Homo sapiens: one gene and its partners. The protein of the gene in region 4 interacts with the protein of the main gene of each other region in a pairwise test. Each region holds a gene or a part of one and is shown on either strand. Other genes may lie near its edges.

What was found.
Region 1: the proteins of FAM168A (region 4) and RNF216 interact in binary tests that used the Homo sapiens proteins (3 or more experiments, as listed by UniProt).
Region 2: the proteins of FAM168A (region 4) and EPN2 interact in binary tests that used the Homo sapiens proteins (3 or more experiments, as listed by UniProt).
Region 3: the proteins of FAM168A (region 4) and NFYC interact in binary tests that used the Homo sapiens proteins (3 or more experiments, as listed by UniProt).

The regions. Positions count from the first base shown.
Region 1 is NC_000007.14:5,771,279-5,779,220, forward strand, and holds part of RNF216 (E3 ubiquitin-protein ligase RNF216), read right to left. Parts: intron 7,386-7,942; exon of another isoform or gene 6,209-7,385; intron 1-6,208.
Region 2 is NC_000017.11:19,232,200-19,240,755, reverse strand, and holds the start of EPN2 (epsin-2), read right to left. Parts: upstream 3,391-8,556; 5' UTR 3,225-3,390; intron 1-3,224. UniProt on the Homo sapiens protein: Plays a role in the formation of clathrin-coated invaginations and endocytosis.
Region 3 is NC_000001.11:40,694,196-40,702,137, reverse strand, and holds part of NFYC (nuclear transcription factor Y subunit gamma), read right to left. Parts: intron 6,533-7,942; exon of another isoform or gene 6,393-6,532; intron 1-6,392. UniProt on the Homo sapiens protein: Component of the sequence-specific heterotrimeric transcription factor (NF-Y) which specifically recognizes a 5'-CCAAT-3' box motif found in the promoters of its target genes.
Region 4 is NC_000011.10:73,405,468-73,413,409, forward strand, and holds part of FAM168A (protein FAM168A), read right to left. Parts: intron 6,070-7,942; coding exon 5,927-6,069; intron 4,195-5,926; coding exon 4,020-4,194; intron 2,177-4,019; coding exon 2,064-2,176; 3' UTR 2,046-2,063; intron 1,278-2,045; 3' UTR 1-1,277.

The DNA of each region.
Region 1 (7,942 bases), on a different chromosome or scaffold from region 4:
TTAAACAGAAAGGTAAAATAAGTTTCTAGAAGATAACACAAAATCTCCACAATCTTAGAGGTGCAAAAGATACCCTAAACAGGACATAAACAGTACTATCCATAAAAGAAAAAACTGAAACACTATACATTAAAATTAAGCATGTCTACTCACCAAAGAAATTCAGAATGAAAAGGCAAGCCACCAGGAGAAAATATAAAAACTCTTGCATGTTAACTGAAAAGAAAAAGAATCCCGGCGGGGTGCAGTGGCTCATGCCTGTAATCCCTGCACTTTGGAAGGCCAAGGCAGGCAGATCACTTGAGCTCAGGAGTCTGAGACCAGCCTGGACAACATGGCAAAACCCATTTCTACAAAAAAAGCAAAAAAATTTAGCCAGGCGCAGTAGCGGGCACCTAGTCCCAGCTACTCAGGAGGCTGAGGTGGGAAGATCTCTTGAGCTCGAGAGGTGGAGGTTGCAGTAGGCTGTGATCCCGCCACTGCATTCCAGCCTGGGCAATGGGAGTGAAACCCTGTCCCCCCACCAAAAAACATCTGCCCAAAGGAAAAATGGGGCAAACAATTTGAATTAACAACGGCTGAGTACCCCGAGGAAACGCAAAAGGCCAATAAATAAATGAAAAAGTGTCCAACATTATGAGACATCAGAGAAATGTAAACTAAAACCACAAGGGGCCGGGCGTGGTGGCTCACGCCTGTAATCCCAGCACTTTGGAAGGCCGAGGCGGGTGGATCACCTGAGCTCAGGAGTTCGAGACCAGCCTGACCAACATGGAGAAACCCTGTCTCTACTAAAAATACAAAATTAGCTGGGCATGGTGGCCCATGCCTGTAATCCCAGCTACTCAGGACGCTGAGGCAGGAGAATCGTTTGAACCCGGGAGGTGGAGGTTGCGGTGAGCCGAGATCAAGCCATTGCACTCCAGCCTGGGCAACAAGAGTGAAACTCCGTCCCAATAAAATAAAGTAAAATAAAATAAAACCACAAGGAAATTCTGGGAAGACAGTAGTAGTAACAGCAGAATAGTCTTTGAATCTCCTCAAATTCTTACATAGTAACAGAAAAAATTCCATGGACAACAGTTACAAAAAAACTAGACAAGAAAGAATCTCCACAAACACCAAATTACTATAAACACAAGATTTAAATGTGCTTCTTGCTGTGTCACCCAGGCTGGAGTGCAGTGGTGCGATCTCGGCTTACTGCAACTTCCATCTCCCAGGTTTAAGCGATTCAATCCTTTCCTTCCTCTCTGAGAAAATCTCAATTTTCTTTGCCTTCCTGGGAGAAACCACTGTGCCTCAGAGGCAGTAAGCCCCAGATCGGGGCTTCTCATTAAATGTCTACAAAGAGTTAATAGTCAAATAATATCAGCATTTTCTCAACTTATAGAATGTGAAGTTATAGATACTATCAAAATATACAGATATCAAAACCAGGTTAGCAAAGTTTTACAACAGAAATTTCTAGCATTGATAACTGAAAAAAGATATTCCTTTTTTTTTTTTTTTTTTTGAGACAGAGTTTCGCTCTTGTCATCCAGGCTAGAGTGCAATGGCACGATCTCGGCTCACTGCAACCCTCTGCATCCCGGGTTCAAGCAATTCTCCTGCCTCACCCTCCCGAGTAGCTGGGATTACAGGCATGCGCCACCATGTCTGGCTAATTTTTGTATTTTTTAGTAGACACAGGGTTTCACCATGTTGGCCAGGCTAGTCTCGAACTACTGACCTCTGGTGATCCACACGCCTCAGCCTCCCACAGTGGTGGGATTACAGGCATGAGCCACCATGCCTGGCCCCAGGTATTCCCACTTTTAAAACTGACATATATCAGCGTAAGTTTGGGTCTCTCATTTGAAATAATGATATTGATGTTATTAATAAGTAGCATGGTATTTAAAAGAACAGCTCTGGTATCAAATTTGAACTGCATCTAATCAAGTCCTTTTTTTTCCCCAAATAAGATTTTTTTTTTTTTTGAGACAGAGTCTCCCACTGTCACCTGGGCTGGAGTGCAGTGGTGCAATCTCAGCTCACTGCAACCTCCACCTCCTGGGTTCAAGCGATTCTTCTGCCTCAACCTCCAGAATAGCTGGGATTAAGGGTGCCCGCCACCAAACAAGCTAGTTTTTTGTATTTTTAGTAGAGACAATGTTTCACCATGTTGGCCAGGCTGGTTTCAAACTCCTGACCTCGTGATTTCCCCGCCTTGGTCTCCCAAAGTGCTGAGATTACAGGAGTGAGCCACCACACCCAGCCAGATTTTTAAAAAGTATTTTGAACACTATTTTCAAGCCAAATTTTGAGACGGAATCTTGCTTTGTCACCCAGGCTGGAGTGCAGTGGCACGATCTCAGCTCACTGCAACCTCCGTCTCCCAGGTTCAAGCGATTCTCCTGCCTCAGCCTCCCTGAGTAGCTGGGACGACACATGCGTGCCACCATGCTGGTTAATTTTTGTATTTTTAGTAGAGAAGTGGTTTTGTCATGTTGGCCAGGCTGATCTTGAACTCCTGACTTCAGTGATCTGCCTGCCTCAGCCTCCCAAAGTCCTGGGATAACAGGCGAGTCACCGTGCCTGGCCCCAAGCCAAATTTCTTATTTTTTCTTTGACCACAACTGGCTTCCTTCAATTTTACACTGAAAATCAAAGGGAGATGTGAGTCATTTTTACAGCTAATTTAGTTGAAATGTCAGGCTTGTAGTTAAGCAGACTGCTAGTAACGGTTCAAAAAATTCCTCATGAGTGGCACACCAGTGGCCCCAACCTGTGAGAAGAAAAGAATTCTGATGATGGAATTTCTACTCTTAACTAAATGTAAGTCTCTGTATCAGGTCATTTAACTCTCTGACACTCAAGTCTTTTAATCTGGGCTTCGGATAATACTGCCTATGTTTAAATCTTGGTTTCCCATTTAGTCAATCGGTGGCTCCAGATAAATTGTTCAATCTCCTAGGCCAATTTCCTCATTTGTAAAATGAGAATACAGTTGTTTTAAAATTAGTTGCGGGTAGGTAGAGTGGCATGTGCCCAAGTCCCAGCTTTACTGTGGTTGCTGAAGCAAGAGAATCCTTTGAGCCCAGGAGTTCAATGCTGCAAGTAAGCTATGATAGCACCATTGCACTCCAGCATAGGCGGCAGAGGGAGAACCTACCTCCAAAAAAATTCATTAATTTTAAAAAATAAAAACTTTTTAAAAACTAAATCAGTTGAATTACATGAAGTTTTAGCACAGTGCCTGATATATACTAAGTGTGACATTGTGCTATTTTTATTAACTGTTACCTGCGAAACAGAAAAATCAAAATAGCTATTCTTACATTACAAGGCTATGTTGAAAAATGAGAAGCCACTTTGTATATGGTAAATACCATCAAAATAGCTGCATTGTAATCACAAGTACACAGGAAATGCAGTGCTTATTAATAAAATACAGTTCAAGGGGGGAAAAAATCTTTATTTTCCCATTCCAAGTTACTTTTTTTTTTTTTATTGAGACGAAGTTTTGCTCTTGTTGCCCAGGCTGGAGTGCAATGGTGCAATCTCAGTTCACTGCAACATCCCCTCCAGAGTTCAAGTGATTCTCCTGTCTCAGCCTCCCAAGTTACAGGCATGTTGCCACCATGCCCAGCTAATTTTATATTTTTAGTAGAGATGAGGTTTCGCCATCTTAGGTTGGTCTTGAAATGCCGACCTCAGGTGATCCACCCCCCCGACACTCACCAAAGTGGTGAGATTACAGTCGTAAGTCACTGTGCCTGGCCTCTTTTCTTACTTATAGTTGTATTTCCAATGCCTAGCACAGTTGTTGAACGAGTGGCTCCAAAAACTTCTTCCTCTGTCAAAGACTGGAGCTGTTATTCACCATGGCCATAGAACCAGAGTCAGGAAACATGGCCTAGGCAACAACAATTAGGATTTTCTTCAGTTATCAAGTATTGCCCATTACAGAAAATATGGGAAACAAAGGAAGTCAGGAAGAAAAGAGAATCGCTCACGGTTCTCTCACCCAATTTTCTGGTTTTCAAAATCTCACCTTCACTTCCTCGTGACCAGAATGCTTGAGGCTGTCTTCTACAAATCATTTTTTTCTCCTTGTTCTATTCATGCTGCTTCTCCATTTTTCCTTATGTATATGCTCCTAAACTACTACTGTATGATCCTAGGGCTCTGTAGTGCCCCTGGCTCTCCAGAATACTTCCTGTAAATATGCCTGCCACTTCTGCAACAGATTTGGGGGTCACTAAAGACTTTCAAATTTAATGAGTTAATCCCTTTGACTTCCCAGCAAAAAGTGGGCAAAGCAGGCCAGGTGCAGTGGCTCACACCTGTAATCCCAAAACTTTGAGAGGCCGAGGTGAGTGGATTATTTGAGGTCAGGAGTTCAAGACCAGCCTGGCCAACACGGTAAAACCTGTCTCTACTAAAAATACAAAAACTAGCCAGGCGTGGTTGCAGGCACCTGTAGTCCCAGCTACTCGGGAGGCTGAGGCAGGAGAAATGCTTGAACCCGGGATGCAAAGCTTGCAGTGAGCCTAGAATGCGCCACTGCACTCCTGCCTGGGTGACAGAGCGAGATTCCATCTCAAAAAAAAAAAGAAAAAGTGGGCAAAGCAGAGCTAGGCACAGGCTGGAAGAAGATGACATGCCCGTGTCACACCAGGCCTCCACAATACCTCTTCCCAGCATGTTTTTAAAAATGTCTATAAACGATTGTTTTTCATTCAAATACCAGTTGCTCATCCTAACCATTCTTTGGATATCCATCCTTTTGTAAGTCTGTACTAATACAATTAATATTAAATCAATACAGAAAAAGTTTACTGTTAGCTCTCCATATCCATATGTGAAAGCTGTGGATATGGAGAGCTGACTGTACTGCTACAGCATTTTATGTAACAAGAATTGGTTATGCATCATCGGGAATACATCAAAACAAACTCTCAAATGGATTTTGTCTCAAAGAACTCAGAGTCCCATCAATCAGAGAATAAAGTCACTAGTGTAATAAAGAGACTATAGCCGGGCACGGTGGCTCAAGCCTGTAATCCCAGCACTTTGGGAGGCCAAGGCGGGCGGATCACGAGGTCAGGAGACGGAGACCATCCTGGCTAACACGGTGAAACCCCGTCTCTACTTAAAAAAAAAAAAAAGCACAAAAAAATTAGCCAGGCGTGGTGGCGGGCGCCTGTAGTCCTAGCTACTCAGGAGGCTGAGGCAGGAGAATGGCGAGAACCCGGGAGGCGGAGCTTGCAGTGAGCTAAGATCGGGCCACTGCACTCTAGCCTGGGCGACAGAGCAAGACTCCGTCTCAAAAAAAAAAAAAAAAAAAAGACTATAGGGGAAGGGCAGGTAGTCAGTGAAGGTTTCACAGGAATAGCCATATCAAGCTAAAGTGAGAGACGTGTCAGATCTGGGTTTATCCTTTAAAAGCACAGCAGCCCCTGACTCTACTAAAAAAATACAAAAATTAGCTGGGTGTGGTGGCTCATGCCTGTAATCCCTGTTACTCTGGAGGCTGAGGCACAAGAATGGCTTGAACCTGGGAGGAGGAGGTTGCAGTGAGCTGATATTGTGCCACTGCACTCCAGCCTGTGCGACAGAGGGAGACTCTGTCCAAAAAAAAAAAAAAAAAAGAGAGAGAGAAAAAGAGAGAGAGAGAGAAAAAAAGAAAGAAAGAAAGAAAAAGAAAGTGAAAGAAAGGAAGAGAAAGAGCGAGTGAGCACAACAGCTTTCACTTAGGGCTCCTGGGCCCAGAGTCATCAGGTAAAAAGTCTGAATACCCTGCTGAGAGATCACACAGAAAGACCTGACACTACACGTGGAGGGAAAGAGCCAGTGGAGCCCGGCCTTCCAGCAGTCTTTGACAAGGCATGTGAACGAAGAAGACATTGTGGAAGCGGATGCTCCAGCACTGGCCACCTCTGCTGACAACATGTCGACCAGAGAAAAATGGCCCAGGTGAGCACTTCTCAATTCTCCTGATTCATAAAACTGTCAACAAACAAAATTATTCTATGAAGCAGTAAGTATTAGGGTGGTTTGTTATACATCAACAGATAACTGAAACAGAGCTCAGATTTTATTTTCTAGCCAATGGGAAGCAATGCAATGACAGCTGTGCTTTAGAAAAATCAACCTGGCTGCAATGTGTAAGATGGCATGTAGGAGACAACCGGTGCCAGGAAACAAGAGCCAACAGTACCTAGGGGGAGGAGAAGAATACAAGACACTGACTGCAGAGTTAGAGTCGATGGGATCTGTGTATGTCACTGGCCATCAGGGCAAGAAGAAAGGAATCAAAGTTGACCTAGACGCTGAGATCAGGTGACCACAGGATGGTGATGCTATTAAGGAAGAACAAAGCAGATGATGAGTTCAGAGAAAGAAAACGAAAATTGTGTTAACTTTAATATGTGGACAAAATATGGTAAAATAACATCCATCATTATGGATATAAATATGCAAACAATTAGTCTAGAGTTTAACAGCTCTAAGAATCCTATTATCTGTGTATTTTTACAATAGGAAAGGTTTTAAATCAAAAATTAAACTCAAAATCTTCAGTGGGCGGGCTAAACAATTTAACATAAAACATCAAGATTTTCTTCAACTGTCCAATGAAAATTAGTTTAGAAACTAGGACAGATAAGTAAGTACATCCTCATGTGTGGAGGGTAAAATCAACGTTTTCAACGATCTTTTTAGAACTGAATCTTCTGTGACCAAAGGACATGCTTCTGCTTCTAGCCCAAGTACTGCCTTGCAGGCTCCATCCCTTGACATGTTTTCATACGGCATTTGAGTTATTTCTTTTAAACCACAAATCTCACCATGGTGAAACCGAAATCCTTACCATGGCCTACAAAACGCTACCATCACCTGACCTTGCTGACATAGCGGGCCTTACCTCATACCTTTTCCCCCCGCATTCACCATTCAGTAGTAACAATGGTTCAGTTCCATGACTTGCTCCTTCCTTCCACTGCAGGCTCTTCCCCAGCTAAACTACTCTTCTTCACTGCCTCTTGGACCAAATTAACTCTATTCATTGTTCGGTTCTTTGCTTTCTCCTCAGAGAAAAATTGTTCCTGATTATCCCCTAGATGTTCCTCCCTGGTTCAATCACACAACGTACCTCATTTCTTCAAAGTACTTCCAACAATACTTTAATATACTTATTTAGGAAACTATGTGTAATTTTGGTCTCCTCTGCTAAAACTTAAGTTCCAAGAAGGCAGAACCAAAGTGTCACTTGATCCCAAAGCCCCAGGACATAGCATATCGGATGGCACAGTAGATGATCTTCAATAGTAGATGTACTTTCAGAATAAATAGCACTCACTAATTATAGAAGGATAATTAGTGGCATGAACTCTGGGTCCAAACTGAGTTCAAGTTCCACGCTGACCCTTACAAGTTTTGGGACTAGATATTTTTCAGCACCTCAGTTTCTTTTTTTAAAATTATTATTATTTTTGAGACGGAGTCTCGCTCTGTCACCCAGGCTGGAGTGCAGTGGCACAATCTCGGATCACTGCAACCTCCGCCTCCCGAGTTCATGTGATTCTCCTGCCTCAGCCTCCCCAGTAGCTGGGATTACAGGCGCACGCCATCACACCTGGCTAATTTTTGTATTTTTAGTAGAGACGGGGTTTCACCATGTTGGCCAGGCTGGTCTCGAACTCCTGACCTTAGGTGATCTGCCCGCCTCGGCCTCCCAAAGTGCTGGGATTACGGGCGTGAGCCACACCATTCCCAACTATGTTCTATTATCTTTAACAATAATGCAAATATAATGATATCAGGTATGAGAATGAATTATGTCTCTAAAGAGCTAGAATATAGCAATGCCTAGAATTTTGTAAACACATTAAATAGTAGCTGGTAGTAGAATCAGCAAATACCAGCTCTCTCAACTATCCTATTCATCAACTTT
Region 2 (8,556 bases), on a different chromosome or scaffold from region 4:
TGTCGTAAGTGCACCAGCAGACTGTGTGGGTTGGTGAAGGTAGGATAGCAGAGAAAAAGGGGCCAAACATCGGACGAGCTAGACGGCAAAGTATTGACAGAAGAGGTCTGTTTACACCGAATACATGAGTTAAAAGTCCAGCAGACAAAAAAGGGATACAAACTACGTAATTCCTCACATCTTTTCCAGCCTCAACTTCCCCGAATCCAAGGCCGGCCATGGTGGCTCACACCTGTAATCCCAGCACTTTGGGAGGCCAAGATAGGTGGATCACTTGAAGTCAGGAGTTCGAGATCAGCCTGGCCAGCATGGCAAAACCCTATCTCTACTAAAAATACAAAAATTAGCCGGGCATGGTGGCACACGCCTGTAGTCCCAGCTACTCGGGAGGTTAGGCAGGAGAATCACTTGAACCCAGGAGGCAGAGGTTTGCAGTGAGCCAAGATTGCGCCACTGCACTCCAGCCTGGGTGACAGCGTGAGACGCCATCTCAAAAAAAAAAAAATTCCCCAAATCCAAGCCCTTTGACTTCTCCAAGGCTCAGGGTCACCAGGTATACATGTCATAAAATGACAACAATCGTGGTCCTTCACACCCCTATACACCAGAGAGAAAGGTTATGGGGAACAGTGAGAACCGCCAGAAAACTTAGAAAATTTTAATGTACTTTCCAAAAGTATGACAAGGACAATTCCATGCATAAAAATCTCATAGTACTTCAGTTCACAACCGAAAGTTGCCGCTCCTCCTAATTAAAGTTAAAAAAAAAAAAAGTCCGAAAACTTTTCAACTTTTGCAGGACTCTTATCAGAATCCCAATTCTTGGGAAATCCTCCGCTCATTATGGAAGAGGGTTAGTGATAACAGAGAATTTCTACAAAGGTTGGGTCATTTTTCAAGGCTGCATACACGATGCTAGATATTATCACTTGAAAGTTTTACATTTCTTCACACCTCGAGTGCTTGGCCCAACACACACTGCTGGAAGTTTTCCACAGAGCTCTCCATCTGGCCAGCTCAGGCTTCAGAGAGGCAAAAAGCCTCTGTAAACCAGGGAAACTTGGTACATCCCACAAGACAATCCGAACTGGCTCCTGGTCCGGGGACTTGTGGGACGCAGTCCTGAATCATGCCTTACAGTAACTTACACTTTACCAAAATCTTTAATAACCAGTATCTCATTCCCTGCTTACAAAAGAATAGCCCAGTGAGACTGGTAAAGATGACTAGCCCAATTTTAAAACCAGGGAAATAAATAAGCTTTTAAAATGTAAAAGTAAAAATACAGATAAATAAAAGATTTAGGCCGGGAGTGTTGGCTCACGCCTGTAATCCCAGCACTTTGGGAGGCCGAGGTGGGCGGATCACATGAGGTCAGGAGTTCGAGACCAGCCTGGCCAACGTGGCGAAATCCCGTCTCTACTAAAAATACAAAGATTAGCCGGGCGTGGTGGATGGCGTGCGCCTGTAATCCCAGCTACTCCGGAGGCTGAGGCAGGAGAATCGCTTGAACCCAGGAGGCGGAGGTTTCGGTGAGCCGAGATCGTGCCACTGCACTCTAGCCTGGGTGACAGAGACTCCGTCTCAAAAAAATAAATAAATAAAAAATTTAAAAGTTTAGGTGCGCTTCCCCAACACAATCACTTGTCCCAAAAACAAGCACCGAACAAGTACCATTCAGAAGCAAATTGTAGTCCCTTTTGATGTTCATTTAAATACAGATGAAAACTTAATTATCAATGCTAACTCAATCACTGCTGTGCCAGATTCAGCATAAGATTTTGTCAGCACCTAAAATTCTGTATCTAGAGCTACAAGAGGCACGTTTTCTGCCAAATCTTCGTTATATTACATAATGAGAGGAAGCTTGGATTCTTAAAATTCACCTTTTCCCATCATTTTAACACCCTGTTCCAATCCCTTCTTTCACAGGATATTTTCTGGAGGTGAAAAGGAATAACTCATTACTTCTCATATTTTCCTGCCCACTTTCTTGCATAAATATTAAAAATAAAGGGGAAGGTAGGGTCCTGAACATCTCCCTAAAAGATAAAAAAGTTATTAAATGTGGTAAACAGAGCCTGGAGACCTAGCTTCTAGTTCTGCACTGACACAGTATCACTGCGTGACCTTGGGCAAATTACTGCAGTTCTGGGCCTCAGTTTCCCTCATCTGAACCCTAATGATGGTTAAGCCCTCTCCGCTCTTAAAGCACAGATTTTAGATACGTCCCCAGGGAAGCACAACTGTGAAGGAGTCGCCCAGACGGACTCCTTGGGCGGAGAAACGGCCTTCCACAAGCTCCGGCGGGGGGATTCACAGGGAGCTCAAGCTGCCCCAGGGAAAGCCACTGGGCAAACTTCAGGTCGCAAACAAAAACCTGTTGGCACCGACTCCTCTAGCAAAGGCCAGCCTCCCAACGCGCTCGGCTCTCGGCTCTAGGGGAGCCGCCCCACAGGGAGAGAGAGGAAGTCTCTCCTGGAAGAGGCCAGACCCCACGCACCCATTCACCCACCCGGATCAGCCGAGCAGGACCGCCGGGCCGGGTGGGTCTCTGCCATCCCACGCGGAACAAAAGGCAGCTGGAGCCTGGCTCTTCCGCCCCCGTCCCCGCTGTTCCGTGGGAGTGGGGGCTGGGGAGTGGGGAGCCTGGTCCCCAAGGACGGAAGGGGGCCCTGCTACAGCCCCCAGGAAAGGTGAGACGGGCGGGATCCCGGACAGAGATAAGGACCCCTCCCCCGATTCCCGGAGGGCGCCCGGACCGGGCTCTGCACGGGGGCTGGCGGGAGACCAGGCTGGGCTCAGGAGGAAGGGGCGCCGGGCTCGGGGAGAGGAGGAACGTGCTCTGGGGAGGGGGCGGGGTTGTTCCAAGATGAACGGGGCTCCAGGATCCGAGGTAGGAGTAAGGGGCGCCCTGGACTCTGGGGACATAAAAGGAGATGCTCGGTGATAGGGACGGGTAAGGGGGGAGATCCTTGCAGCGGAAAGCTGGATCCAGATGGGAAGGGGGCCATGCTCCAGTCCGTGGGGCGGGGCCTGGTTGGAAAGAAGGGGATCCCCCAGAGCCTGGCGTAGGGACCAGCGGGGCGGCAGGGGCGCATGCCCTGGCGGGGCTGGTGAGGTAGGGGAGCCTGTGCTCTGGGGGCGTCCGCGCCCTGGAGAGGGGGAGGGTCCTCGCCCCGGGGACTCGCTCTGGCCTTGGAGCCCCACGGGCTGTGGCTCACCTCTGCTCCTCCGGGCCGGCGTGGGTGCGCCGCTGCGGCCACCGGCAGCGCTCGAGAGGCGGGAGCGACCGTAGCCCGCGGAGCCGCCGCCACCGCCGCGTCTGGCTCAGTTTGACACCCACACACCAGCCAACATGGCGGCCGGGAGGGGGCGCGCCGGACGCGTGCGCGCGCCCTCAGGCCCCGCCCCCGAGGCCCCGAGGTCCCGCCCCCACGCCCGCAGACCACGCCCCTGCGACCCCGCCAGAGCCCCTCCCTAGTGGCCCCTGCGCGGCTTCCCCTCCGCCTCCTGCGCTCCAGGACCCCACGCGGACGACCCACCCTTCCGCAGCGCCCCACAGTCGACGCCCGAGCCCCCAAAAAACCCCCAATCCCGAGCGCCACACAAACCCTGGCAAATTAATACCCGAACGCGCGCACTCTAATCCCCTTCAGGCCACTCCACCCCGTACACACTCACGGCCCCCCCACACTCACGGCCGGGCAGCACGCGCAGACCCCGCCCCGTCAAGCAGAAACTCACGCTCCGGCCTGCCGGTTTCACTCAAAAACCTTGTTCAGTAGGAGAGACTGGAAGGGGGCCAGGGCCTGCCGGGCGCTGGTAGGGTTGGGTTCTTAGGCTACAAGTGTGTTCACTTTATGAAGATGCGCGGAAGTACACTTTGGATTTGTGCGCTTTTCCGTGCGTGTATTTCACGTCAATAAAATATACTCAAAAACGGAGAAGTCTCTAGGCTTCTTTAGGCTGCTCAAGGGGTTACCTAAGGGCACGAATGGCAAGGGGTTACCTACATGGCACGAAAACGGAAACCCTTGACTGGCGGGCACCCACAAAGCACCTCCTCTGTGCCAAGCCCTGTGCTGGGCACAGAAATGAGACAGCCCCAAATGCCTCGAATGAGAGTCCCGGAACTGGAGGGGCCAGAACTGGAGGCTGCACCTCAAAGCTGACTAACCTGCTCCAATCAGGGTGGGAGTCAGCAGAGACTTCTCACAGCAGGGGCGCGGAGCATGAGTCAGGGCTTGCTAGGTGGGCAGAGGGCACCATCCCTGTTGCCTGGGTGACATCAACACTCTGCCTAGCCTTGGCTTCAGGGAAGCTGTGGCCAGAAGTCTTCCTCTGCCCTAACTCACTGAGGGACCTTAAACAAGTCACTGTACTTCTCTGAGCCTCAGATTCCTCCTCCCTGTACAGGAACCAGGGGATGAAAGTATCCCTTAAGGTTCTAACAACCCAGGATCTGGAATTCCATTCTCTGGCAAAAAAAAAAAAGGTTGTATCTTTCCAGGAATTCATCTATTTATTGTAAGTTTTTTAGTGTGTGTGCATAGACGTGTTCATAATAGTTTTTGAGGGCTTTTTTGTGTTTGTATGGGGTCGGTGGTAATGTCCTCTTTGCCCTTTCTGATTATGTTTACTTGTATCTTCTCTTTTTTCTTTATTAGTCTAGCTAGTGATACAATAAATACGATAAAAATGGAGAGAGCTTGTAACACGTTTGCAAAACCACATAGCCACTTTTCCTTTGAAAAGTCAAACACTGGTAGCTCTAGATGCTAGAAACACTCTCCAGTTAACCACCCTTCCCACTGCTTGGTGCCCCTTCTCCACCAGCAGAGGGAATTATGCCCTATGTGCCTGCCTTGCAGCAGAAGCCGGAGCTCCCCGTTTTGAACTTGGTCCACCCTCATCCCAGAGAATGCCCTCAACCAGTCCAACATTCCTTGTGAGCCTCACCTCTTTACCCCATCTCCAAGGAAAGCAGAACTTTACACTGCAATCATGCTTCTGCCCTGAGTTTACAATGTCAGATGAGTTATAACACAGAGCTGATGCACAGCACGGGCGTGATGCTTCTAAATCAGCACTGTTCAGCAGAATTTCCCTCCACGATGGAAATGTTCTTTCTGCGTGCTGTCCGTAGGATAGCTACGAGTCACAGGAGGCCAGCGAGCACTTGAAATGTGGCTAGTGAGACTGAGGGGCTGAATTTTTTAAACTTCATTAAACTTTTATTAATTTAAATGTAAATAGCCATATGTGGCTAGATGCTACCATGCTGACCAGTGCTGGTCTAAAACCTTACCACAATTCCACAAGTGCACATTCTTTTTTTATTTATTTGTTTTGAGACGGAGTCTCACTCTATTGCCCAGGCTGAAATGCAATGGCACAATCTCAGCTCACTGCAACCTCCATCTCCCAGGTTCAAGTGATTCTCCTGCCTCAGCCTCCCACGTGGCTGGGATTACAGGCCCGCACCCCCACACCTGGCTAATTTTTGTATTTTTAGTAGAGACAGGGTTTCACCATGTTGGCCAGGCTGGTCTCGAACTCCTGACCTCGTGATCCTCCCGCCTCAGCCTCCCAAAGTGTTGGGATTACAGGTGTGAGCCACCGTGCCCAGCAAGGTGCACATTCTTGCTGTTCACATTTTACAGACAAGAAATTGAGGTTTGGAGATATGCTGGGGCTTGGCCACCCAGGCCCACTTTTCCATATGCAGAGCCTAATACTCCCTTCACTACCCACCTAGCAAGTGTGTGTAGCCGCACAGATAATATGCAAGCCTGGAAAGAGAACTGGATACAGATAATGAGATGATGAGCTAACCTACAGGACAGGAAGTGAGTTGGAGAATACCAGATTAGCCCAGGCTTGGGAAGTGGAGGAGGGTGTCCTGAGGCCGGAAGACCGCCACGTGCAAGGTCAGAGGGGACATTCTTGCATTCCTCAAAGTCATTTCTCTTTCCTGGACCCCCTCCTTGAAGCGTATCAGCCCCCTGGCATTCCTCTCTCAATTCATCCTCATGATGATCCCTTGACGTCAGCAGCCCTATTCCTATTTTAGATGCGGAAACTGAGGCAGCATGTGGCAGGGCTAGGATTCAATTCCAGGTTCTATGAGTCTAGAGCACATAAGCAGTCTTGCAGAGGAACTTGCAGGATAAGCTGAACAATTTCATCCGTGCCCAAAGCAGTCCATGGAAAACAGGGCTGGAGGAGACACTCTCATCTGCCCTTGCAGAGGTTTGGAGGTTGGTTCCAGGTGGATAATGGAGCAGACTGATGGGGGCCGGTTGGAGAGGTGTATTTCAGAAGAAAGAGCTGGCAGTGCAGGCCAGGGGTGTCTCTGGGGTTAGGGAAGGAGGGTTTCAAGCAGGAAGGGACTTTGGGGGAAAGACTGGCAGGCAGCAGACAGGGACAGACTGCATGCTGAATGAAAAGAATCACTTAGCACAGGTGCAGAACAGGCTCCCCGGGATCTTCACCAAAGGCTTGAACTCTATATTCAAAACTATTTGTCCCACAAAAAGAAACTTGTGTTGGCAATCCAGAAACACCTAATTTCTTGTCCACCGACTTGCTGCTTGACCATGACGTCACTGCCCCTCCCTGGACCTCAGTTTCCCCATCTGTGAAGTGGGAATAATAACCCCTCCCACTCCCTAGGATTGCATTCTGGCTCAGGTGAAAAGGCAGAGGAGGAAATGCTTTGGAAACTGTAAATGCACTGGATGGGTGTTGATGGCAGTTCTCTTATTAAGGACATTGAAAAGAATGGAGCCATCCTTTCCCTTCTAGGGGTTGAAAGTCTAGGACAGAGAAGTTTTGAGTTTGGGCAGCATGAACATGAGCAGAAACCAAATGCCACATAGACAATCAAGAGAAAGAGCTATGACAGCTCTCACAGGAGGAAGTTTCCTTCTAGCCCATGGGGAAGGAAGGACCTGTGCCAACATCCTGGAAGTGCAGGTGCTGGAGAAAGGAACTAGTAACAATGACAACAAAGTAGTGAGCATTGTGCAAATGTTTTGCATGCAGTACCTCATTTCCTCTTCATAAAAAACCCTAAGAGGTAGAGACTACCGTTATCCTTATTTTACAGCTGAGGTTCAGAAAGCTTCCATTATTTGCCCAAGATAACACAGCTAAAAAGTGGTAACCCTGGAAAACCCAAGCCTAAACTCCAAAGCTAAACTTTTTTTCTTTGTTTTTTGAGACGAAGTTTCGTTCTTGTTGCCCAGGCTGGAGTGCAGTGGCGCGGAGTTCACCGCAACCTCCGCCTCCCAGGTTCAAGCAATTTTCCTACCTTAGCCTCCCAAGTAGCTGGAATTACAGACATGTGCCACCACACCTGGCTAATTTTTGTATTTCTAAATTTATTTATTTATTTATTTATTTAAGATGGAGTCTCACTCTGTTGCCCAGGCTAGAGTCCAGTGGCGCAATCTCGGCTCATTGCACCCTCCGCCTCCCTGGTTCAAGCGATTCTCCTGAGTAGCTGGGATTACAGGCATGTGCCACCATGCCCAGCTAATTTTGGTATTTTTTTAGTAGACACGCCGTTTCACCATGTTGGTCAGCCTGGTCTCGAACTCCTGACCTCAAATGATCCGCCTGCCTTGGCCTCCCAAAGTGATGGGATTACAGGCATGTGCCACCATGCCCAGCTAATTTTGGTATTTTTTTAGTAGACACGTGGTTTCACCATGTTGGTCAGCCTGGTCTCCAACTCCTGACCTCAGATGATCCGCCTGCCTTGGCCTCCCAAAGTGATGGGATTACAGGCATGAGCCACTGCACCCGGCCCTTCTATTTTTTTAGAGACGGGGTTTCACCATGTTGGCCAGGCTGGTCCTGAACACCTGAACTCAGGTGATCTGTCCACCTTGGCCTCCCAAAGTGCTGGGATTACAGGAGTGAGCCACCATGCCCAGCCTTTTGTGTGTGTGTGTGTGTGTGTATGTGTGTGAGAGAGAGACCGGGTCTTGTTCTGTCACCCAGGCTAGAGTGCAGTGGCACAATCATGGTTCACTGCATCCTCAATCTCCTAGGCTCAAACAATCCTCCTACCTCAGCCTCCCAAGTAGCTGGGACTACACCACACCTGGCTATTTTTTCCAATTTTTTTGTAGAGACAGGATCACATAATGTTGCCCAGGCTGGTCTCAAACTCCTGGAGTTGATCCCCCTGCCTCAGCCACCCACTCAAAGTGCTGAGATTACAGGGATGAGCCACCATGCCTAAAACTAAACTCTTGGGAAGAATCTGAATAGGCTGAAGGGAGCGACTCCTTCTCCCTTCCAGCTCTGAGCCTGAGTCAATCAGAGCTTTCTCTCCCTGGTCAGTGATTAGTTCAGGAATGGGCACCTGACTCATAGCAGAGCAATGACTCTCAAGCCAAGCCTGGGACTTCTACAGAAATCATTGAAAAAAGAAGCTTCTAGGGGCCGGGGTGCAGTGGTTCATGCCTGTAATCCCAGCACTTTGGGAGGCTGAGGCGGGCAGATCACCTGAGGTTAGGAGTTTGAGACCAGCCTGGCCAA
Region 3 (7,942 bases), on a different chromosome or scaffold from region 4:
TTAAGACCAATAGATGGGAAATTATTCTGCAAAGACTCGCTTCAGCTCTCAGAGCTGTCCAAAGATGACACAACTTTCCTCAGAAGCTATGGATGGGGTTGTTAGGCACGGGCTGTTTGAACACTTGACAGGGATGTGTAAAGGCAACATGAGAGAGAGCAGTCATGTGCAGCAGCAAGAAAAAAAGCCCAATCTTTACAGCTAAACAGATTTAGATTTTAATCCCTCCTCACCACTTTTTAGGTGAGTGACCTCGTGCTAGTTATTCAACTCCATCGAGGCCAGTTTCCTGCACTAAAACATCTTGCAAGGTTTTAGGGCTTAGGAAAATTTCATTTGTTCAATAAATACTTAAATTATAAGCATAGCCATTGTACTAAATAAGCTCTGGGGATTCTAAACAAGACACAGTTCCTGTCCTTAAAGAGATTAAAGTCTACTGTAACAAACAGGAAAGTTAAAATAGGCAATCATGATGCTGTACATTAAGAGTTACAACACATGCAAATGCAAAATGCTATGGGAGGACATAAGCATAGCACCTAACCCAGGGCTTACGTAAGTTTTAGGCTGGTCAGAGAAAGCTTCTTAGGAGAATTAAAATCCTAAGAATAAAAACCAAGATAGACAAAGTGAACTGCATGTGCAAAGGCCTGAAGCTGACAGAAAGTATTACATTCCTGTTTGGTATAGCAGCAGCCCAGAAGCAAGAAGCTAGAAGTAGAGTTAGAAAGGTAGGCCGGGCGCAGTGGCTCATGCCTTTAATCCCAGCACTTTGGGAGGCCAACTGAAGTCAGGAGTTTGAGACCAGCCTGGCCAACGTGGTGAAACCCCATCTCTACTAAAATACAAAAATTAGCCAGGCATGGTGGCAGGCACCTGTAATCCCAGCTACTCAGGAGGCTGAGGCAGGAGAATCCCTTGGAGGCAGGAGAATCCCTTGTACCCAGGAGGCAGAGGTTGCAGTGAGCCAAGATTGCACCAATGCACTCCAGCCTGGGTGACAGGGCGAGACTCTCTCTCAAAAAAAAGAAAGGTATACAGGGTTGGACAAAGCTAATATACTAAAACTTTATTCTAAGGACAATGATAAGGAACTAATGCGTCTTAAACATTGGACTGGCACAATCAGTCCCACGTTTAAAGTGTAATTCTGATTTTCCCAGCCCCATGTTTAAGACTGTTTAGTTCCTTACCATTGGGTACAGTGTGGAGAATAAGCTGGAGAAGGGGACACAGTGGGAGGATGGCAGCACTCTAGACCACTAACGTGGAAAACAGGATGCTAAAGTTATCTGGTGACTGGATGCAGTAGTGAAGACACTGAGTTCAAGACCAGCCTGGACAACAAAGCAAATAATTCAGAATTTGTCATCTCCTTAACGTCCATTTATTAGTTTATTAAAAATTAAAAAATAAAACAAATTTTTTTGAATTCAAGACCAGCCTTGAACCTCATAGAGTGAGACTCCATCTCAAAAAATAAAAAATAAGCCAGGTACGGTAGCTTACACCTGTAATCCCAACACTCTGGGAGGCCAAGGTGGGAGGATCACTTGAACTGAAGAATTTGGGACTAGCCTGGACAACATAGCAAGACCTCCTCACTACTAACAATAAAAAAATTAGCTGGGCAGGCATGGTACTACATCCCTGTAGTCCCAGCTACTCAGGAAGCTGAGGCAAGAGGATGACTTGAACCCAGAAGTTTGAGGTTGCATTGAGCTATGATCACACCACCTCACTCCAGCGTGGGCAAGAAAGTGAGACCCCATCTCAAAAAAATTAATTAAAGTAAAATAAAAAATAAAGAAGATTCAAAAATCACTAAGACCCAGTGGTTAATAAGGCATGTAGAATAACAACACTGTGCTTGATAAAAAGCATGTACTCAAAAAATGGTACCTGCTACTATTATTATTGTTATTGGGCATTGGATTAGATGACCTTTGAAATCACATTCATCCTTAAGAGTCTACGTTACCTTGAAGATGTATCTTGTTCTCAGAAAAGTCCTTTCCCACGATTACCAAGCTATCTTATACAAAATGATTCATTTTTTTATTCATAGACTACACCAGAACTGCTCAACTGGGCTCCACTACACACCAGTCATAGCATGAAACGTTTATTAGGTGTTCTCACAAACAGCGGTCCATGACCAAGTAAGTCTGAGTAACACCGCGTAATGTATCTTCCCTCTTGAAGGGTCATAGGCAAATAAGCACCAAGGCTCTGAATAATAATTCTGCAGTAAAGAAAGGCATTTCACTTTGGCCATTTTTTGTCAAGGATCCTCTTTTTATCCCCAAAGGACACTGATTAGCACTACACAGAACTAATGTTCAGTGGAAGAGCTTGGGAAATGCTACTCTAAACCAACTTACAAATTTTAGTGGAGTGAAAAGACTATAGGCAACTGTATTCTGATAACCTTCCAAAATGGTTAGAGTTTTACACACATTATGGCGTTTTCCTTTCTAACTTAGTACTACTGAAAATGACATTAAATACCACCATAAATAGCAATCCTTTGCCTCCTAAGTGATTGCCAACCAAGCATTCTTGGCTTCTTAAAAGGCCCCAACTTCGTCATTTCATAATGAGCAAATTCTATGCTACTTACTTTCAGGGTACAGTAATAATTTTTAAAACAGTTTAAAATGACAAGGATGTCAACTGTGCAGATAATGTGTACTTTATTAGCCCCTTCTCTCTTCTCTTTTAAAAGGAACAGATCATGCCAGTGTCAAAGGGATATATCTTCTTAACACTGGGCAAAGAATCTCAACTTCATAGAGATTACTGGACAGTTTACAGCTCTGGAGGCCAAGGGCAACAGTAATTTGGGATTGTGAAAACCTTCAGTACTTCAGATTTAAGCCAATGACATGATACAAAATATTCTATACTCTAACATCATTTCCTATGAGTCATCTCATTCCTTTTTTGGTTTTGTTTTGTTTTTTTTTGGAGACAGTCTCACCCTGTCGTCAAGGCTGGAGTGCAATAGAGGCGCGATCTCGGCTCACTGCAACCTCTGCCTCCCGGATTCAAGCGATTCTCCTGCCTCAGCCTCCCGAGTAGCTGGGGTTACAGAGGCCCACCACCACGCCCAGCTAATTTTTTGTATCTTTAGTAGAGATGGGATTTCACCATGTTGGCCAGGCTGGTCTTAAACTCCTGACCTCATGATCTGCCCGCCTCAGCCTCCCAAAGTGCTGGGATTACAGGTGTGAGCCACGGCGCCCGGCCCATCTCATTCCTCTTATTAAAACACTTTGAAACACTGCTCAAGATCACTATTTATGGTTCATACTCATGAATGTATTTAAGAATAGGACAATTATTGAATCTTATTAAGAATATACAATTGACTTTAACACTTGAACCCGGGAGGCAAAGGATATACTATTGGCTTTAAATGAAGGGTATTCAGGCTGGGCGCAGTGGAGGCTGAGGCAGGCAGATCACCTGAGGTCAGCAGTTCGTGACCAGCCTGGCCAACAAGATGAGACCCTGTCTCTACAAAATATACAAAAATTAGCCAGGTGTGGTGGCACGCACCTGTAGTCCCAAGCTACTCAGGAGGCTGAGGCAGGAGAATCGTCTGAACCCAAAAGGCAGAGGTTGCAGTGAGCCGAGGTCATGTCACTGCACTCCAGCCTGGGCGACAGAGCAAGACTCCAGCAAATAAATAAATGAATGAATGGCATTCATTTAAATAGGACACCTTATATATAGTACCTTGAACGTGAATTTTTTTTTTTTTTTCAAAGAGGGAATCCCGTTCTGTCACCCAGGCTGGAGTGCAGGGGCATGATCTCAGCTCACTGCAGCCTCCGCCTCTGGGTTCGAGCGATTCTCCTGCCTCAGCCTCCTGAGTAGCTGGGACTACAGGTGCCTGCCACCATGCCTGGCTAATTTTTGTATTTTTAGTAGAAACGGAGTTTCACCATATTGGCCAGGCTGGTCACAAACTCTTGACTTCAGGTGATCTGCCAGCCTCGTCCTCCCAAAGTGCTGGGATTACAGGCGTGAGCCACTGTGCCTGACCAGACATGGATATTTCAACCTTTATTTTAAACGTATTCTACTGGAAACATTCAAATGCAAAGATTAGACTCTAGTTCCACTCTTTAAACTACAAGTTTATACAATAGAAAGCTCTCATGAAGTACTGGATGTAGAAGTAATCTATCTGGAGATCTGAAAATAACAAAATGGAAAATACAACTCCAATACTGAAAATGAGTACAGGTGCTGTCTCACTGCTATCAGGTACATCACTGCTAACACATGGAGAAGTGTGGGAAGGGTGCAACAATTCCTGCAACCTAGCAAAATTTTCTGCAGGCAGAGAGATTTTTCCTGAACCATTCCACAATACTGTCTAACTGCTTACTTCAAAGAAAACGTTACTCAAGTGACTACAAATCACACAAACCAAACCAACGGTCCTACTTCAACTGATAATTTGTACAGTTAGAAAAATTTTAAATGACTATAATGGAAATCTCTCCTTCTGGTCAGAATGAAAACACCAGTTGTTCCGAATTTAATCATCATTGCTATTTGTCAAATATGAAGAAGTTTTCATCGCATCGCAATCATTACCACTCAACACTTGGGGATGAACAAAAGAGATCAGGAAACAATCTTTCCCTGAAACAAATGATCCTACTACTTTGTGCATTCAAAAGTAAGACTGACCTCACACTGGTCCACTGAAAATCAGCTCCTAAACCACAACAGCACAACTAAATTAGGTTACTTCATGTCAAGTGGTTGCTCTCCCATTTGGAAATCTTACTGTATATTGCAGAGCAGACAATTACAAAAGGCCTCACCCCTCCTCATCAAGGAAGCTGTAACGGGCTGAAAGGACAGATTTCATGCTGTTCCAAAATGAAAATGTGTTCTCCCACTTATTAAGGTCCACTAAGTGATAGGCATCTACCACACGCTATTATATTCATTTCTCATAATTACCCTACAGGTAGGTATTATTGTCGTTATTTTACAGAAGAAGAAACAAGTTAAGAACCTGCTCCAGCACAGAGGGTAAATGCACTGCAGAGACAGAACTCTTCCCTTGGTCTGACTCCAATCAGCAACTAATACTGTCCTCTCCCATAGGCACTTTTTGGCCAAAGTTTTAAAAATCCATTTCCTCCTGCAATTAATCTACTTACATTATATTGAGTGCTTTGAGTCTCTGCAGGAAAACACTAAAATGACCTTGTAGCCTTCCTAAACTGTGACAGTGCATGCATGAAAAACTGAATAAACAAAATGAAAAGAAAGACTGTAAGACATCAGATAACTCACAACCAGTTTCCTCTGAGAACAAGAAACAGAATGGAAAAGAACAACTTACTGGCAAAGGAATATTCTTCCTGGTTGTATGCCTGAGGCCAGGATTGACCTTAAGAAGGTCATTTGTGACCCTAGTAATGTCCTCTGCCATTCTCATTCCGGTGAATGAAGTAAACCTGTCACTTAAAGTCATCTCTGCCATCAAGTCAATGCGTCCACAGGAGAGGCAATGCTATCCAGTGGAATGAGCACCTATCTGGAAATCCAGTGATCTGGGCAAGATTTGGCTCTGCCCTTGCATAGCCAAGTGACCCTGTCAAGGTCATCTCACTCTTTTGGAGCCTCAGTACAAAGGACACGCCTGAAAGAACTGAAGTTCGCTTCCTGAGCTAAGAAGCCAGGACTTTTTTTCTTTTCCCATAACATTCTATGGTGTCAACACAGTGTTTAAGAGTAAGGGCTTCATTTACATAAGAATTAAGAATTACAAATCTGTGGCTGAGCACTGTGGCTAACACCTGTAATCCCACCACTTCAGGAGGCCGAAGAGGGCGGATCACGAGGTCAGGAGTTTGAGACCAGCCTGGCCAACACAGTGAAACCCCGTCTCTACTAAAAATACAAAAAATTAGCCAGGCATGGTGGCGGGCGTCTATAATCCCAGCTACTCAGGAGGCTGAGGCAAGAGAATCGCTTGAACCTGGGAGGCAGAGGTTGCAGTGAGCCAAGATCGCGCCATTGCACTCCAGTCTGGGGAAACAGTGCGAGACTCTATCTCAAAAAAAAAAAAAAAACAGAATTACAAATCCGTGTCTGAATCTGGGCTCTGCTACTTACTGGCTGTGAGAACTTAAGCAAATTACTTTTCAGTTTCCTCACACGTAAAAATGAGGGTGGCTATATTATCTACCTCATAGTGTATGAGAATAAATATACATAATACATTTATATCCCAGCTGGTACAATGTAAGCAAGCACTCAATAAAAGTAGTAACTATATTATCCCTGTGTTTGATTCACAGATCCTAGTGGCTCAGTACTTTTGAACTAAAAGATATAAATTTCAAAATTACCTCAAAAAGACACCCAGCATAGCCTGGCTGGGCACGGTGGCTCACGCCTATAATCCCAGCACTTTGGGAGGCCGAGGTGGGTGGATCACCTGAGGTCAGGAGTTGAAGACCAGCCTGGCTAACATGGTGGAAGCCCGTGTCTACTAAAAATACAAAAATTAGCTGGGTGTTGTGGTGCACACCTGTAATCCCAGCTACTCGGGAGGCTGAGGCAGGAGAATCGCTTGAACCCGGGAGACAGAGGTTGCAGTAAGCCAAGATCACACCACTGCAACTCCAGCCTGAGTGACAGAGTAAAACTCTCAAAAAACAAAACAAAACAAAACCCAAAACAAGACTCCCAGCATAGCTCCATAGCACAGAATGGGTTTAGCCCATATATGTTTACAATTCTGTGGTATGAATCCTCATTTCGCTTTGCCTTCATTTCTCTGAAAATAAAAGGGGATAAAAATGCCTTGTAAAATCTTCTCTAGTACAGTTTTGGGATTTTTATTTATTTTTTGGGAGACTGAGTCTCGCTGTGTTGCCCAGACTGGAGGGCAGTGACACAATCTCAGCTCACTGCAACCTCTACCTCCCGGGTTCCAGCAATTCTCCTGCCTCAGTCTTCCGAGTAGCTGGGATTACAGGCGCCCACCACCATGCCAGGCTAATTTTTGTAATTTTGTTTCATCATGTGTGCGAGGCTGGTCTCAAACTCCTGACTTCAAATACCACCTGCCTCAGCCTCCCAAAACGCTGGGATTAGAGGCGTGAGCCACTGCGCCCAGTCTCTAGTAGTTCTGACCAAAGAAAAAAATGTGTAAGTATAAATGAGATAACAGATTTGTCATAAGAATTAAATAAGATGCCATGAACACAGCCTATAAAGTATAAATCTTAGTATGATTTCTGCCTGAAGAAAAAGCTGAGGTTCACAAGTTTTCAACATAAACTCAGATCTACTGAGATTTCCTGAGAGTTCAAGATTTCTAGAGTGGTCAATTCCAGATCTTAACAAGGTGGCCATGGGTATAAGGGGCTAACATGGAATGAAGGTGGTCACCAATGTTGAAGGGCAGGTTGCTCCAGAAATGCCTGCTGAAAAAAAAAAGGTGTACATATACACTCATTTTTATCACCTTGTCTAGTCTTACTAAAAACGAAACTAAGTTATAGATCTACAGCATTCTTCATATTTGGTTAACTTGATGACTGAGCCAAATGAGGCTGAAATGACCAATGTACAAAATACATGGCAAACCCTATTTTCACTTGTAGCTTTGCCTCTATCTTCCACAGTGAAACGTTATTGTAAACAAAAATGAGGGAGGGCTTCACCTAAGCACATCAAGACATAAAGCAATTAAGATTTCCAACTCACTGGTCTCCTCTCAAACCCTGATTTAAAGGTTTCCATGCAAAATTGGAACTGCAAATATTTTGTCCTATCCAGTCTTAATTTTACACATTGTTCAGGATAAGCATATCCTAGAATCAATATCCCACAGTCTGAAGAAAGCACTAGGCCTTTGAATAGGTCCTGGTATTTGGGGACACCCTAAGGA
Region 4 (7,942 bases):
TAGGAAGGCTGCATTTAATGCTAATTTACTGTAAGGTCTAGGGAAGTCCTTTCCGCTTCTCTGGGCCTCAGTTTCCTCATCTGCCAAATAGGGAAATGGATGAGATGATTGCTAAGGTCCCTTCAGTTCCATGAGTCTATGAAATGTTTATTGCTATTGCTTTTCCTTCACTATCCTCACCTTCAGAGCTGCCAGCACCCACCTGGAATGTGGTTCCTTCACTTGGGCCATGAATGGCACAGGTAACCAAGAGCTTGGCCTGCCTGCAAGCTCTATGGTCAGACAGGTGAGTCCTGGCACTGGGAAGGGCAAAAGAAAAGGGAGAGAAATGCCCTAGGTTCCCACTCCAATCAGGAGGAAGCTCCTCATCAGAGTGGGTCCATGACAGCTCAGAGGCTGAAGTCTGGATGACACAGGGCATCCGGCCTTCCAAGGCCTCGGGATGCTGGGATCCTACCACCCTGCAGCCGCTTGGCAGGTCTAAGGACAAAATCACCTTTTGAGGAAGTGCCAGGTCAGTTAACATCACTGTGCAAATCAGAAGGTCCAGGGCCAGATGCTTTGGCCAGAGACCTTTCAAACCAAAGCCATGAGGCAAGCACCGCTCCTCCCTTCTTCCCTCTCCTTCCCCACAATGCCCTCCCTCCCCCCACCCTCCCCCAAATTCTAAAGACTTTTTTCCCCAGGTTCTCAGCCTGGGGTATTAAGCTGCTAATAACACGCCTACATACTCAGGTGGTTTTGTTCTTGGTCTGTTGCAATGGTTCTCAGGAGACATTTCATTTGTGTCTGGGACATGGGAATGTCCTGAACTAATCTTGCTTAAGAAAAAACAACCAGAACACTCCCCTAGAGATGTAGCCTGCTCAACAGCTCTGAGTTCCTACCCTGGACCACATCTGTTTATGCTCTTCAAATGGAATCCAGCCTTCAGATGAACCACTGCAATAAACCCTACTCTCTGCTTGCCTCTAGACTGGGATCCCCAGGGACAGGACACTTAGGGAAGAGCAGAGAGGACATGGCCTGGTCAGGTAGGAGGAAGGGGATAGAGCTGGAAGGGCAGGGGCTAAGAGGGGGACAGTTGGGGAGAGGCAGGAGATTAGAAAAAGCAGCTTTTACAAAAACCAAAAATAAAAATCAAAACCATTAAAGATGCATAAAGTGACCCTTGCACTTCCGTTGTCTCTTCTTGCAAATAGAGGTGGTGCTGCTAGGGAACTGCTCCAGCACCGGTGTAAGACTTGAGTAGTTGCATACAATGTGTGACTCCAGATCTGCAGAGGGAAAGGGGAAAGAAACAGTGTCAGTGATATTCAGGAGGCTTCTCCCCTCAACTCGGGAGCCCGCTGTGCCTTCCTAGTGAAGCTGCCTGCCTCCCGCCTGTGGAAGTTGTTGTGCTCTGGTGCCAAGAGCCCTGGAGGAGATGGGGGAGGCCAGATGATGTGGGGGGCCAGAGGATTTCAAAGTGACATCCCTGGAGCCCTATGGTTCACTGTCACTGCCTCAGGAGCTGCTGAGGGGACCAAGGAAGCCAGAGGTCTGGGTCAGCCCAAAGCCTCCAAATAGCTCCAACCAAAGCTCTTAACATATGATCTGGGCAAGAGTTCATTTGAAGAATGGGGCCCATAGTTAAAAGAAGTCCGAAGACCATAAGGTAAATGGCACAGAATTTAGTACTAGAGAACTGAAGTTTAAGCCCTAGCTTAATTTTTACTGGCTAAGTGATATTTAACTACATATTTATCTGTAAAATAGAGCTAATGATCCTTATTTCACAGAGCAACTATAAGGATTATGAGATAACATAAGCAAAGGGATAGCTATTATTATTTCTGTTATTATTTAGATTTCAACAAGCAGTCAACAGAAGTGATAGCTATTATTAAGAGTGATATTATGGACCTTGGAGCAGGAAAGCAACTGGTAACTTGACAGCTGTTACCTGCCCTAGCTGACACCTGTGCTCCAGACCCAAACCAGGGACTTTGAGGCAGTTCCTGTATGTATCCCCCTCCCACTTCTCTCACCCTGGCCACACTCACTTGGATGGGCTGCAGGCTTTACCAGTGTGGGGGCACGTAGCTGTACGCAGGGGTTCCTTGGGCCCTATATGTTGGCATGGAGACAGGGTGTGCCCCAATCGCCGTGTGCTGGGGTGTAGTCAGCAGGGTACCTGAGCATCCAGAGAGAGAAGAGTAACCTGACGAGGCTGCACCAGACACAGGAATGAAGAGGATGAAGCTACAGTCTTTCACATGGCTGCTCCCTCTGCCCAAATCCCCCATCTCCCTCGCCTTCCTGATGACCTGTTTTCTGCCCTTCTCCACCTCACCAGGCTTCACCTCCTTAGGGGAATTTTTTCTGATGCTTGAGGACAGAATCAATGACTATTCTAAGTCCTCCTTTTCCTTTTTTCTTTGAGACGGAGTCTCGCTCTGTCGCCCAGGCTGGAGTGCAATGGCGCGATCTCAGCTCACTGCAGCCTCTGCCTCCTGAGTTCAAGCGATTCTCCCGCGTCAGCCTCCTGGGCAGCTGGGATTACAGGTGCCCATCACCACACTCGGCTGATTTTTTATTTTTACTAGAGATGGGGTTTCACCATGTTGGCCAGGCTGGTCTCGAACTCCTGACCTCAAGTGATCCGCCCACCTCGGCCTCCCAAAATGCTGGGATTACAGGCATGAGGCACCACGCCCGGCCTTCCTTTTACTTTTCTTTGTATGCTTCTCTTATTGCACAATCATACTGAGTAGTAATTGTGATGTCTGTGGCTGTGTTTCCCACACTAACCTGGGTGTTCCTTAAGGACAGTGTTCTGATCTGATCTATTGATATTGGGTTCCCAGGACCTGAACAAGGCTGGCACTGAGTAGATATCCAACAGTTTGCCAACTTGATCTGAGGAGTAAGAGGCCTCAACCATACCCTTACGTTAGGGACAGAATAAAATCCAAATGCTCACTCTACCCCTTGTACTTTCTTACCTCAGATGGTATCCTAGCTGGTTCTTTAAAAGTTGGGTCTCTAGGCTAGGCATAATGGCTTATATCTGTTACCCCAGTATTTGGGAGTCTGAGGTGGGTGGATCCCTTGAGCCCAAGAGTTCAAGACCAGCCTGTGCAACATGGTGAAACCCTGCCTCCACAAAAAAACACAAAAATTAGCTGGGTGTAGTGGCGCATGCCTGTGGTCCCAGCTACTTGGGAGGCTGAGGTGGGAAGATCACTTGAGCCCAAGCAGATCAAGACTGCAGTAGGCCAAGATCGTGCCACTGCACTCCAGCCTGGGTGACAAAGCAAGACCCTGTCTCAAAAAAAAAAAAAAAAAACCTAACAGTCCTTGGGGACTTCTGCTTTTGTCATCCCTCATAATTATTATAATTATTGCACAGGTCCTTAAGCTCCTGCCTAATAAAGAACATTGCCCCTGTGTCTTCTTTTTTGGCGCCCCTGCTGTTACTGGAGTGCTAGCATCATCTCTCTCCCCTAAAGTACACTGACAGCCTCCTCACTGACCTACTTGCTTCCAGATCACCCCTTCTAATCCTGTCTCCACTCTGCAGCCAGAGAATGTTTAAACCTAACCACATCCCTGCCCTGCTTGACCCCCATTGTGTGCAACAGAGGTACCACAAGGTATTCAGGACTTTCCACCATCTTATCCTTGCTAGCGATCCAGCCACCTTCCAACTCCAAGCCCCTATTTCCGAAGGGCCTTGGCTCCATTCCTCCATTCTGTGAACATGCCATGTTCATGTTCTTTCTGCACCACCCTTCCCTCTTTCACTTCTCTAGTTAGCCTGTGTTCACCCTTTAAGGCCTAGCTCGATACGTCCTTCTTGGTGAAATCTTCCTCATCCCCATAGACAGATTTAGAGGCTCCTTCCTCTGGGTTCCCAAGCCCCCTGGCACAGGATCTCTTGTGCTGTGCTGCAGCCAATTCTATGACTGTGTTCTCTGCTCCGTTTTGAGTTCCTAGAGGAAAGGGATGGACACTGATGCAGATGCTGCCCTCACCTGCTGACATTGCCATGGTGGTGCCTGCCACCATGCCCATGGCCACACCGTTGGTCCTCGGGGCGGCAACAGGTGCTGGGTAGATAGCAGAGGGAATGCTGTTGGGCTGGACGACCGTGGTATGGTGGATGACATGAGGCTGGGCAGCATACACCGGCTGTGTGTAGTAGGCTCCCTGGGGGAAAGAGGCTGAGGTCACATAGGCATTTGGAGAGGTAGGTGGGATATGGAGAGAGCAGCACTGGCTGAAGGACACAAGGTCCGGACCCCAGCTGGGGCTCTGCTTGTCTTACTATGTGACTGTGGTCAGTGCAGTGCTGGGCTCAGCTTCTGGTCTGAAAAATAAGGCTCTAATCCTGTCCTGCCTTGCTCATAAGGCTGCTATGATGATCTAATGGGATAAGAGCTCTACTCCCTTAACCTTGGTTTTAGCATTTTAAAATGTTTTATCTTACTGCAATGAACTTTTATAAGCTGCCTAAAATTTAAAGTTAGGAATAACAATCAATCAGTTACCAAGCATGTGAACAGGGCTGGTAAACTCCAGAACACATACACAAAAGGATAATTAGTAGTAGTATCATAATGGTGTAAGTGCATGTTGTAAAAAAAAAAAGTACATGTTGAAAAAAAATGGCGGCTGGACACAGTGGCTCACGTCTGTAGTTCCAGCACTTTGGAGGCCAAGGCAGGCAGATCACTTGAGGTCAGGAGTTCGAGACCAGCCCGACCAGCATGGTGAAACCCCATCTCTACTAAAAATACAAAACAATGAGCCAGGCATGGTGGCACATGCCTGTGGTCCCAGCTACCTGGGAGGCTGAGGCAGGAGAATGGCTTGAACCCGGGAGGCGGAGGTTGCAGTGAGCTGAGATCACGCCACTGCACTCCAGCCTGGGTGACAGAGCAAGACTCCGTCTCAAGAAAAAAGAAAAAAAAAAAAAGGCATACATGGATAGCATTTTCCAGGATGTCTCTTAACTAGCTATTTCCCTTTAGGTAAAAAGGTAAGGATGAAGAAGACAGTGGTCCAAGGTGACTCCCAATGCCTGAATCACATGGCTGCTTCCTGCTGCCACAATCCACTGGCCCACTGACTTGTAGGGGAAGTAAACAGGAGCCCCTGAGATCATCTTAATTCAGAAATCTTCAAATGTTTCTACTAAATGAGATTAAAAAAAATAAAACAAGAGGCTTGAGATCAATTTAAGTTTTGTCTTCTACTCTAAAATATAGCTGTTTTTTAAACTAAAAAAGTATTCTCCTCACCACTTATGTTTCCTATAGAGTCACTCCAGAAGAATGTGTCATGGGTGTGCTAGAGCCCCATATGGTCCCCTCTCTCATACCAATCCTGGAATGCATACATCTTCTAGCTGAAGGAGCCCAGAAAGGCCCATCAGGCACAGAAAGAGAGGGTAACTTGTCCAAGGTCACAGAGGATACTGGTGGCAGGGCCTGTGTACTTTCCTCCTCCCCACTCAGCTCACAGACTGAGGAAGGGTAGATGTGGGGGTTAGGGAGAAAAGACTAAGACGTTGGGGTCTCACCTTGACCAACCAATAGCTCGTGGTGTAACCTTGGACAAGTCATTCCCCTCTTTGGGTCTCAGTTTCCTCACTTGTTTAACAAAGGAGTTGAGCTAGAAAATCTCTGAGGGCCTTTGTCCTCTGACATTCTGGGCTCTGTTAATCTAAATGACTTCATGCCTACCCCCTCTAGGGGCTGAGGTGGAGTGAGGGAGTAAGCAGACTGCAGGGATATTGCTTCAGTGATACAACAAGGACGGCTAGCCAGAGCCACAAACCATCCTCTCCTTCCCTCACTTCCTCACCCTACCCCACCACACTGCACCCAGGCTGAAGGCTCCTCTACCTGCAGAAGAGGTGGCTTTGACATGTACCTACCTGGGCATACAGATTCTGCTGGGGGTAGGCACTTCTGATTGGATACATGGCCGTCTGATAGGGGTTGGGTGATGGGGAGTAGGGGGGTGGAGCAGTGTTACTCTGGGTCGGTGGGACCTTGTATGGTGTCCCCGCAGTATATCCTGTACCAAGGCAATAAGAGAGACTTCCAGTTAGTTGGCAGAAAAGCATTGCTAGAAGGCAGCAGGTCCCAGTCACGACTCCCCAGACAAAGATGGGCTGAATCCAGGCTGGAAACAGAGATGAGAACAAACAGAGAACAGGGCTCCACCCAGAAAGCCCTGGCCCCAGAGGCAGCTCCCTCAGTCCTGGTGCACAGGGCTGCATGGATGATTCTGGGCATCTTTTCTTTCTCTGGGTCTCAGGGCTCTCATCTATAAAATAAGAGGCTAGAACCACATGGTCCCTTTTAGCTCTGACAGCCTGGGATTTGGAGCTGTCTGTGTGAAATGGGCAGGTGCACAGAGATGGAAACCCTCAACTCACTTGCTCTTTATTGCTACTCTACTTGCTTTTCTGTCTTCTCACACAGAATCCAGGGTATCTTTTTGCTGCTGTTTCTGTCTTTCTCTCTTTTGCTCTATTTCTTTTTCTCCTTATCTCTCTCTCTCTCACTCTCTTCTTGGACTTCCCTCCATCATGTTCCCTCCCCTCCCCACCAAGTTTGAAGGTGAAAACCCCATACAAAACACCATTCGGAGACCCTCATCTTCTGGGATGCTGACCATACAAAACACCATTCGGAGACCCTCATCTTCTGGGATGCTGACCATACAAAACACCATTCAGAGATCGTCATCTTCTAGGATGCTGAAAAACTTTGCTCTGCAGAGTTGGCTCCTCCTTCTCTCCTGGGCTCTAGGGGAAGGCCACCTCTGCCTGAAAATACCTGAAGTCAGGGATCACAAAGATTCACATCAACCTGGAACCTGGGCCATGTCTGTCCCTCAGCAGGATGGACAAAAGCTGGAGCTAAGAATGGGGCTGAGAAGTCAGGCCCCAAGAAGCTCACAATTGCCCATGTAAATAAACTGTGCTGCCTTTTAATCCTCCGGAAAAGAGTGACAGATCCTTTGTTCACAGAAAAAAACTTGAAACATGAGTCATTCAGGAACAACACTGTCTCCTTTTAGAATCACAAAATGGAATCGTTCTACGGAACCCAAGTGATCATCAAGGGACTCCAATCCTTGGACTTTACACAAGGGGATCCTGGGCTCAGAAAAGGCAAGTCTTTTTAATAACTTCTCCTAAAGACTCTAAACTCTTCTAAGTTGAAGGGACAGTGCCTGAGGACCTAGGCTTTGAAGCCCTGCTGGGGAGGTGCTGAGGTGGCTTCTTTCCTGTGGTTCCATCTTGGGTAAGTCTAGCAGACCTCACTGAACCTCTCTGGGCTTCAGCTCTTTCACCTATAAGATGCTCACCAAGGACCCTTTCAGCTCCGAGGTGCTGTTTCTATCATATAATAAGGGACTAGGGGCAGAGTGGAGGGAGTGCTTTATTGGAAGAGAAGACATCTAGTCTTCAGTCCTGGCTTTCCCCCTAATTTTTCATGACAATTGTCAAGTCTTTGGGCCTTAGTTTCTTATTTTGTAAAATCAGGTGGCTAAGAATGAAGATCTCTTCCTAAACAAAAATTCCATGGTTCTAAAGATCCTGGGTCTCTTCTACCTTAACCCCAAGTAAAAGCAAACTACCACATGGTCACAAATCTTTCTCAGTCCACATCACACCTCTTTGGCTTAGCACCCCCCTGCCCCTGATGACTCAGGAGGATAGGAGAGCTGCTGCACAGCTGCCACAAAAGTCAGCCTGTTCCTGGATTCACGTCATTTATTTTTTCACCTGCAGATCCATAGTTTTTTCCATAGTTTTGTGATCAAATATGCTTGGGAAATAAGTAACAATGAGGATAGAATGGAAAGTACATATGAAAGAGAGGGAAGCATGTTAAAGAGAAGTAGAAACTAACTGGAAGTGCAACTATGAGCTGAG